3 separate regions of the Homo sapiens genome follow, and all the other regions are reported to be linked to region 1. Evidence: microRNA targets listed by miRTarBase, many of them from high-throughput screens and not tested one by one. Region 1 holds a microRNA gene; each other region holds the end of a gene's coding sequence.
The links. The annotated mature microRNA hsa-miR-608 reads AGGGGUGGUGUUGGGACAGCUCCGU and lies in region 1 at 1,865-1,889, opposite strand. An mRNA with a match to its seed (bases 2 to 7 or 8) in the 3' UTR can be bound and repressed. Matches are read on the target gene's strand: a 7mer-m8 pairs with bases 2 to 8, a 7mer-A1 pairs with bases 2 to 7 and ends in A, and an 8mer does both.

Region 1 (3,249 bases):
CCTCCCAACCTTCTCTTTTATAAAAACGACTTTATAAAGCTATTTATTCAGTCAATGAATACATGTACATAGTATAAAACTTAGAAAGTACAAAGGGGTATGTTATAAACAGGGAGTCTCCCATTTATCCCTGTCTCCCAGGTTGCCTGCCAAGAAGACTGCTGTTACTATTGTCTGAAGTTTCCTTCCAGAGATATTTTACCAAACAACACACTTTTGCTACTCTCCAACCACTTTCCAAGGGATATTCTAAAAATGTAAACCTAGCCAGGTGTGGTGGCTCACACCTGTAATCCCAGCACTTTGGGAGGCTGAGGTGGGAGGATCACTGGAGCCCAGGAGTCCAAGACCAGCCTGGACAATATAGCAAGACCTCATCTCTATGTGGTGGCATGCACCTGTAGTCCTAGCTACTTGGGAGGCTTAGGCAAGAGAATTGTTTGAGCCCAGGAGGTCGAGGCTGCAGTGAACCACTGCACTCCAGCCTGGGCAACAGAGTGAGACCATGTCTGAAAAAAAGTCAAGTGGATCACACCACTGTATCGGCTCATCAGTGACCTGAATATAGAGTCCCACATGCTCCTAGCCCTGTGTGATGGGACTCTGCCCATTCCTCTGGTCTCACTCACCCTACTCCAGCCACACTGGTCTTCTCTGCCTGTCAAATGCCCTCAGCTGCCAGCCTCTTGACTCCTTTGCCACGTTAATGATTCCTCCTCTTGCCTGTTACCCAGGGTTTAAATCCATACAGGCCTCTTTGTGTCTCCTCCTGCTCCCTCACCTGGTACAAGCCACTACCATCTGTCCCCCGTCTCCATAAGCCTGCTCAGGCCCCTTCCTCTGACCCAAATGATGCCCCCAGCCTCCTCACTGCTTTTCCTGCCTCCAGACTCACCCTATTTTCATCCATCCAGTGCCTGGGGCCAGATAAATATTCCTAAAGTGATGTTTCCCCAAGATGTTTATTTATTTTTTTAATTTTATTTTTTTTGAGACGGAGTCTTGCTCTGCCGCTAGGTTGGAGTGCAGTGCATGATCTCAGCTCACTGCAACCTCCGCCTCCCGGGTTCAAGAGATTCTCCTGCCTCAGCCTCCCGAGTAGCTGGGACTACTACTCTCAACACCATGGTGATGTGACTGGGACTACTACTCGCATGGATGTGCATCACCATGCCGGGCTAATTTTTGTATTTTTAGTAGACACAGGGTTTCACCATGTTGGCCAGGCTGGTCTCGATCTCTTGACCTCATGATCCACCCGCCTCGGCCTCCCAAGGTGCTGGGATTACAGGCCTGAGCCACCGTGCCCAGCGGATGTTTACATTTTTTAAAGGGGGGTAGGGAGGAATTCTCTGGTCAAATAACTTTGGAAACCACAGGTGAAACCTATCTTTACTGGGCTTACTTCCTAGAGCCTGAAGGATGTTGCTGTGCATTGTGGGACTGGGCATGTAGTGTTTCCCAAACTCATTTGACATTTAAACCCCTCCTTTGAAAATTAATGTTCCTCAGAACATGCTTTGGGAACTGTTCTATAAAGCCTTGCTATCCAAAGTGTGGTCTGGGGACCAGCAGCATCAACTTCACTTGGGAGCTTGTTAGAATTGCAGACTCTTGGGCCCTTCCCCAGACCTACTAAGTTTAGCATCTGCATTTATAATATACCTGGGTGATACATTAAAGTTAGAGCCTCTAAAGTATCAAATTCTGAGGGTGTTCACTGTCACAGAATAAAACCCAAACTCCCAGCTGGGCATCTGTGGCCTTCCATGACCTGGTTCCATCTGCCTCCCCAGCCCCATTTTCTACCTGTGCTGCACCAAGAGGCAGCCTTTGATGGAAGCTCTTGGAGATGCCTTTTTAAACGGAGCTGTCCCAACACCACCCCTGGCCCACCTTGGCCCAGTGGATCTTGGGAATTTTTTTTTAATTATTTTTTATTAGAGATAGAGTCTCATTATATTGTCCAGGCTGGCCTCGAACTCCTGGGCTCAAGTGATCCTCCTGCCTTGGCCTCCCAAAGTGTTGAGATTACAAGTGTGACCCACCATGCCCAGCCCAGGGCCGTTTATTTTGTAAAAGCTCTCCAGATGGAGCCATTACCTAGCCAGACATGGGACCCCTGGAGACACCCTATTCTTTAGCTGGAAAGGGCTGATGCTTCATTAATGCCTGTCCATGGAATACTGGGTATTTGACCTATTCCTTGACCAAAGACTCATTTTTCTCATCTGCAAAATGCAGGATAATACTATTTCATAGGGTTATTTTAGAATTAACTGAGATAATAGCTAAATCATCACTTGCTGTAGATAGTTGCTGACTTAACAATGGTTCAATTTATTATGATGGTTTTATTGGTAAGTAACCCATCGTAAGTAAGCATCTGTAGAGGTTACTTACTGTTTTTTGTTGGTTTGTTTTTTTGAGACAGGGTTTTGCTCTGTCATCCAGGCTGGAATGTGTGGCTTAATTATAGCTCACGCAGCCTCAACCTCCCAGGCCCAAGTGATACTCCCACTCAGCTTCCCAAGTAGCTGGGACTACAGGTGCACGCCAGCATACTTGGCTAATTTTTGTATTTTTTTTGTAGACAGATCTCGCTGTGTTGCCAAGGCTGATCTTGAACTCCTGGACTCAAGTTGTCCTCCTACCCTCAGCCTCCCAAAGTGTTGGGATTACAGATGTGAGCCACCGCGTTCAGCCTACTTATTGCCATTTTGATTATTTGGGATCCCAGAGGAGATGAAGATGCCACTGCGGGACAAACTAGTAGGCCACCAGATGGTTGAATTAGAAGTACTGTGCCCAGATGCCGGGGGCAATGGCTTACATCTGTAATCCCAGCACTTTGGGAGGCTAAGGTAGGGGGACTGCTTGAGGCCAGGAGTTCAAGACCAGCCTGGGCAACATAGCAAGACCCTGTTTCTACAAAAAATAAAACACTTAGCTGGGCGTGGCATGTGCCCGTGGTCCTAGCTACTCAGGAGGCTGAAGTGGAAGGATCCCCTGAGCCCAGGAGTTTAAGGCCACAGGGAGCTATGATCATGTCACTGTACTCCAACCTGGATGACAGAGTGAGATCCGACCTCAAAAAAAGAAAAAAAAAAAAATGCTGTGCCCATGGCTTGCCACTCTGGCAATACTTACAATGTTTACTGTGGTTGCTGAGATTGACTGGCAGGTCTGTACCTACCCATCTGTGTCCCCAACAATCCTGGCATCCCTGATTGAGGAAGAAGGGGAGGA
Region 2 (3,249 bases), not on the chromosome of region 1:
GGCGATTCTCATACCTCAGCCTCCTGTGTAGCTGGGATTACAGGCATGTGCCACCACACCTAATTTTTGTATTTTTAGTAGAGACGGGGTTTCACTATGTTGGCCAGGCTGGTCTTGAAATTCAGGTGATCCACCCGCCTTGGCCTCCCGAAGTGCTGGGATTATAGGCGTGAGCCACCACACCTGGCCCCCGGGGGGCTATTTTTAAAGCACTTTTCTAAAGTACATGGCTGATCTAGGCAGGCATCTTGGAAACTACTCTGCGTTGACTTGGGCATTGTCTATTTCTTCCTCTGCTGCCCTCGCCAGACCCTGCGGGAGATTGTGATTGGCGTCCTGCACCAATTGAAAAACCAGCTTTACTGACCGGTTCTTGGAAACCTGGAGAACAGCCAACAAGAGGCCCTTGAATCTCTACGTGGCCACTGAACTGCTGGGCCCGGGAGACTGGACTACAACACCTCACACTGGTCAGCTGGTTTCTACTTGGTGTTTGGTTTTTCCCAGCCCCATTTTATCTTCAGCGGAGCCGCGGTGTTTGTTTTGTGAAAGCTTCTGATTAATTTATTATATTGACGATAAAACTCAAACCTACCCAGCCTTCCCCCCACTCCATGGAAGTCCTTGGGATGGGCGTCTGCTCTGGACACCCCAAAGAGCTCCTGCCCTCTCAGCCCTTTATTCAAGCCTCAGATTTCTGCTCATGATCTACATAGATTTGGAAACTGTTTTCCTCTGTTTTGGTCTCTTGGGCAACATTTTTGGCCCAAGTTTGGGCAACATTTGGCCCAAGTTTGGGCATTTTGGCAGTAGCTGTATGGGAGAAAAAGAGTAAGAGGAAATATTCCCACAGCCATGAAGGGTGAAAGGGCACCTTGTGCCTAGACTAGGGCTGCCTGGTCAGTCCCAGGTGAGGCCAAGGGCTTTCTGGCCATCTCAGGGAGGGGCCACCAGGTTCCTCCCCTCACCCCATATTCCATCACCTTCCTCCTCTGCTCTGGGTGGTAAGGGAAGCCCTCCCGGTTCCCACAGGCTATGATGCTGCATGGCAGAGGCAGGTATAACACAGCACTACATATTGGAAATTTTTTATTTTTCTAAATACCAATGCAGTTTTGCTACGGTTACAATTTTGAAATATTAACTGAGCCTCAAAATCACCCTTTCTGTCAAGCATATCTTGGCCTCTCCCATGTCTCAGTGTTGCCTGCATTTCTCCCAGGACTTGGGGGTGGGGTGAAAAGCGTACAAAAGATACTTAAAAGGGCTCCTGGGGTACACAAGCCCAGCAGGTCCTGAGTGAAGCCGTGGGCCCTCCAAATGCTCGTTTTATAGCAACCTCTCTCTACCCTAGTTCTCCAAATTCACTTCTGCCTTCCTCAGGTTTGATATCTGGCAGGTTTGACTATCCAGAGGAAATTAAATATTTTTATATAAAATTAAATTATAATAAATATTGCCAAATGCTTTCCTTTAGCATTGTTCCAAGTCTAAATGTTAACCTCAAGCTACTGCAATTTAGACAATGAAATGGGCTGGGTCTACCCCCAGCCACCAGCCCTCATCCTCTCTACCCAGTGCTCTGGTTTATGCTTGTCTCCTGACTGCTCTGCTTAAAGGTGAAAGTAGCAGGAACAACAACAAAAGCCAACCAAAAACAAGGTAGCCAGTGCAAGACATCTCACTCTTCTGACATCCTGCAGTCCCCACCAGTCCTGACCGTGGGCCCCTCAGGGGTCTGGGAGTGTGACGTTGTAATCTTCATCCGTCTCTATCCCAACTTCCTCCTGTGAGACAGGGAGACAAGTGAATGAGATGTCACCAGGATAAGACCACAGGGAAGCAAAGAAGGAAGAGAGCTCCACTTACAAAGAACTGCTTCTTGCTCTTGGGGTATCCTTCAAGTATTGCATCAGACAGCTCTGTAGCCTGACAAGAAATAAAACCACCCGTTTTCAGATGGGCAGCACTGGGCACTGCCTGTCAGTTTATGATATTGTGTAGCGGCTGATCTGGTGCCTGCCATTTTCAAAGGCACCTCCAGGGCCTGTCTCGGAGCTCCCACACACTTACCATCCTCTTCCTCTTCCTCCACTCCTTACAGTACTTCTGCCTCTCTCTGTACACCTAGAAGGAAAAAGCAAGTTCCTCTAACTCCTCAGAACCACAGCAGCCCTCTGGGGCTCAGCCCTGATGTTCACTCTGGACCTGCACAGCGGTCCTACAGCCTTCCAGCTCACCTGCTCTTTCTCTTCTGGAGTCACATGATTGGTAGCTGCTTTAATGTTCTTCAATCTCTCTCTGTAGCCAGCGCATTCCTTCTTTAACTCCTGGATTTCTTTCTGCATCTCTGGTGTGGTCAGGGCACTAGATAATTCCTTGAGCTCTGAAACCACATCCGCCTGGGGTCACTTGCTACCCCTGAGGAAGGAGTTCTGTCTTTCCCAGTGGGTGCTCCCTGAGGTGTTCCACCTTGCTCTGGATCTATCATCTCACATGGAAACTAAGCCATACAGGATTATTTATTCTTCTAATTTTCTTTCCTCCTCCATCTACAAGTGGCGTGGGTGTGAGGTTGAACACTTACTTAGGCGTAGCCAGTTAAAGAAGCAGGAATAAAGGGAAACGTGGGGACAGTGTACTGATAATCGTGGCAGGGAGAACAAATGCGTATCTTGTCCATTTGTTGGTACACAAAAGCCGTTAGTTATCCTACATTTCTTTTTATGCCTAAGGGAGCCCAGCAAAGGGGTCTTAGCTGCAACAAGATGCTGCAGTCATTGAACCATTCATTTAGTAATTCCTGACCTCTAGAATGAACCTAAGCCTATGGGCACTTTGGAGGGGCTACCCAGTCCTACCAGCCTCCATGTAGCGGCAGCTCTGCTGCAAGCTCTGCACCTTAGCAGTGAGGGCCACGATTTTGCCATCTAGGACTTGAAGGTCAGCATCACTCACCATGTCAAACTGGTCCTGCCAGACAAAGAGGGAAAATACAAGTGAACTGTTGTGAGGCACAAAGATGGGAACACACACCTGGGAAGGCACCATTTGGATATGCTCAGGAACCAGCCACACCCCAAAGTCTCCAGAGGGTCTGCAGAAATAGTGGGAGAGTACTTTTGAGAAATTGTTTTCAGTTAAGGAGCGGCCCCACTAAAAAGGTAGGAAAGAAAAGCTGAAATCTAATGCTTGTCCTTAAGCTACTAGGTTGACAGGATACTGATTAGGACAGAAATCTTCCCATTT
Region 3 (3,249 bases), not on the chromosome of region 1:
TTCGGGCTCAACCACTCATCACCCACTGATGCCCCTGGCCATCCATTCCCCATGGTGGTGATGGGATGGGATAGGACTGAGGTTTGTAGACAAGTTAAGGTCTAGGCCTAAATCAAGGAAATGCAGCACTAAGGGTGCATTATCAGGCACTGTGCAGGGTTACACCAGGAGCTGGTGGTGAACTCCTTGGAACTCCTCAAATCACACTCCACAGGCACTGCCTATGGGTGAATTGGCCTGGCTAGGGAGACAGATCCTCCCCTGCCCTCCCCTAAACCTACCATCTGCCTTTCTCAGATGCTGGAGAACTTCAGAGTTGAAATCCAACACCTCAGCGATGTGGGCACCACATTCAACCTCATTCTGATGCCTGAAAAGCCCATCTCCTTCACCTTCTGGCCCTTTAACCAGGAAGCAACCCAGCAGTGATCAGAGAGGATGGCCTGCAGCCACATGGGAGGAAGGCCCAGGGGTGGGGCCCATGGGGTCTCTGCATCTTCAGTCGTCTGTCCCAAGTCCTGCTCCTTTCTGCCCAGCCTGCTCAGCAGGTTGAATGGGTTCTCAGTGGTCACCTTCCTCAGCTCAGCTGGGCCACTCCTCTTCACCCACCCCATGGAGACAATAAACAGCTGAACCATGTGGTGTCTTGCGTTCCATCAGACTCATTAGGTGTTCATCACTCCCGTGGAGATGCTTCCTGTGTTAAAGCAGGATCTGGGCATGCTCAGGAGACCCCAGGTAGCCACACTTGAAGCCACCTCTGCTGGGACCCCCTCACCCATGGCAGTTCAGGAGCCAGCAGAATCAACTCCAGGCTCCCTGGGGCAAGGGGTGAGGCAGAGTGGGGCAGAGGAGGGGAGGCAACTGCTACTGTGCCAGGAGCTACAGAAGCATCAGGCAGAAGGACAAAGGAGAACTGGGGAGTTCTGTGGGTGGCCCCAAGAAGTGTGGGCCAGTACTGCCTTTCTGAGTGGACCTGCCCCACAGGGGTAAGGCTCGCACAGGGCTCTGCTTGGGTGAACTCTGGGTGGGAGTTCCCTGTGGGGCATGAGGACTTCCTGCCAAGGCCCAGCCAGAGTCCTGGGCATGGCAAAGGCCGAGAACTGTGGGTGAGAACCCCTGCTACTGAAGGGCTGGTGTGAGGTGGCTGACTGGGGATGAGAGGCCAGCCTGCTTCCTTTACCATTCCCGGGCCTCCTCTGGGCTTGCTCCAGGCCTCGTGTTCTTGCTCTGGGGGCTTGCGCCCCCTTGTCCAAGGGTGGGAGGTGGGGATACTATTCTGCAGCAGAGCCGCTGGTTTGTCATTTGGACTGAATGACACTGGTCTCGACTTCCGCCCCCTAATCCCTTGGGGTCTCCCAACTCCTGACCTGATTCCTCTTGGCCCTCGGCTATCCAAGTCTAAGTCCTGCAGGCAGGTGGGGGAGCTAGTCCAGCTGAGGCCAGTGGTCCAGCTGGCCTGGCCTCTCCTGCCCGAAGCTGTGGGATCTGGATCCACTCTTGGAGCCCTTCTGCTTTCCCCACCACAAAATCCTCTTCCCTGTTGTCTTTGTCTTTCCTTCCTGTGTCCTTTTTCTTCTCTGGTCCTGAGTCAGCTTTGACTCAGAAATGTTATAGCTGGAAAGAGGCTTACAGCCAATGAGGTCAAGCTCTACATGGAATAGATGGGGAAACTGAAGTCCAGAGAGGTTGCTTGGGTCCCTTGAGGTCACACAGCCTGTTTGCCCCCAGAACCTGGGCCTCCTGACTCCCTGTAGGTGCCTCCTTTCCCCTGGCCCAATCTGCTCTCCTGCCCCGGCTACATTTGGACACATCATTGCCAGCTCAGCCTAGTGGCTTAATGGAGTATTTCACAATGATACGTGACTGCCACAGGAAGGCTTCAAGCCTCCAAGTCTTTCCCTTTCCAAGAGACAGACAAACCAAACTTGAAAGAAGGAATATCAGACATGATAGATGTTTTGGGGCAGATGAAAAGGACAAGCCTCCCTCGTATTTCCCAACAGAGCTGGTCTCTGGTGGCCTTGCTTCTTCTCCGGGTCTGGAAGGGGCCCGTCTCCCTGGCCCCTGCTTTGGAAGGCCTCTTCTCTCCACCCTCCTGGGTCCACTGTGGCCCTTGGCTTTCCAAAGATGCTGGCTCCTGGGGCAGGCGGGAGGCTGTAAGGCTGCAGCAGAAGACCCAGGCCCAGGCCCAGAGTGAGGTCTAGGAGGAGGAAGCAGGGCCCCCAGGCTGCCCTGCTCCAGGAAAGAGGAAAATGCTCACAGAGCTACAACATTTAATAACGTCATTTTTAGGGGGCGGTGATGAGACTCCCCAGCACACAGGGAAGGAGGCCTGCTCTGGGGCTCAGGTCTGCTGAGAGTTAGCGGTCTCCTTCTGGGGGCTCAAGGGCTTGTTGAGCTTAGAGTCTGAGCTGGGCAGCAGGGGCTCCAGCTCTGAGGGCTGCTTGAGGTCCATGGAGTGGGTGAGGGCACTCTGTGGTGTGCAAAGCGGGGTGCGTGAGTACCCCCCATTCCCAGGGGGTGACCTGCTCAAGGGCATATTGCCTGACAAACCAGGCCTCAGAGTATCCAGAATCCAGTGGGCCATGACCTGGCAAAGATTTCTAAACCCATTTTGCCACAGCAGGTGACACCTAATTTCTCCAAGGGTCCCCAGGGCTCAGGTGAGTGTGCAAAGGTTGCCTTTGTTCCTTGCCTGTTCCCTCATCCTTTCCAGGCCTTTCCCAGGAGCCGCTGCTGAGCTTCTGGCCACGGGCAAAGCACAGCTGGCTCAAGAGCAGGAGAAGTCAGGGTCTTTGCTTTGCGGGGCTGGGCGGTCCCGGGGTTGAACTTGAGGGGCAGTTGTGAGCAGGCCTGTTTGTTCTCGGGAAGTTGGCAAAGTGGAGCCTACATCGTGGCCATCTGAGAAGGGTGTGCTAATTTGAGAATCTTAGGCTCTATGGATTCAGGGGGGTAGGGCCACAAGCTACTCTGCCCATGAGCGCAGCCAGTCCTAAAGCACAGTGTCAGGGCATCCTGGAGATGCCTGCATGGACCCCTCATCCACAGTCATCTCCTTGAGTTTCACAGCACCCCATGGGGGAAAGGGTAGTTTTGGCAGGGGTTTTCTGTTCCCCTTAGACAGGTGGGGGAATTAAGACCGAGCCTTCGGTTGGTAATGGAGCAGGAATGGGAGCCTAGGACTCCTGACCCCCAGCCCTGGAGTTGGCTCCACAATGGCTTTTCTCAGGGCCCAGTGACTTTGGG

Region 2: the mRNA of MLX is a reported target of hsa-miR-608. Seed matches in the 3' UTR shown: 7mer-A1 at 648-654 and 7mer-A1 at 966-972.
Region 3: miRTarBase lists CYP11A1 as a target of hsa-miR-608. Seed matches in the 3' UTR shown: 8mer at 606-613.

Annotation. Positions count from the first base shown.
Region 1 is chr10:100,973,640-100,976,888 of GRCh38, reverse strand. MIR608 (microRNA 608) reads right to left here and starts at 1,904; the gene lies at 1,805-1,904. The region is part of intron 4 of SEMA4G (semaphorin 4G); the gene reads right to left.
Region 2 is chr17:42,571,238-42,574,486 of GRCh38, forward strand. MLX (MAX dimerization protein MLX) reads left to right here. Exons shown (of 8, transcript NM_198204.2): 8 at 310-1,966. The coding sequence ends at 366. It overlaps PSMC3IP (PSMC3 interacting protein), which reads right to left. Exons shown (of 8, transcript NM_016556.4): 4 at 2,862-2,973; 5 at 2,241-2,386; 6 at 2,074-2,127; 7 at 1,870-1,929; 8 at 1,073-1,787. The coding sequence ends at 1,731. Among named protein-coding and RNA genes, the nearest start is that of PSMC3IP, 4.9 kb to the right of the region's middle.
Region 3 is chr15:74,335,152-74,338,400 of GRCh38, reverse strand. It overlaps CYP11A1 (cytochrome P450 family 11 subfamily A member 1), which reads left to right. Exons shown (of 9, transcript NM_000781.3): 9 at 298-639. The coding sequence ends at 429. CCDC33 (coiled-coil domain containing 33) reads right to left here. Exons shown (of 19, transcript NM_025055.5): 19 at 2,260-2,476. The coding sequence ends at 2,348. Among named protein-coding and RNA genes, the nearest start is that of CCDC33-AS1, 17 kb to the right of the region's middle.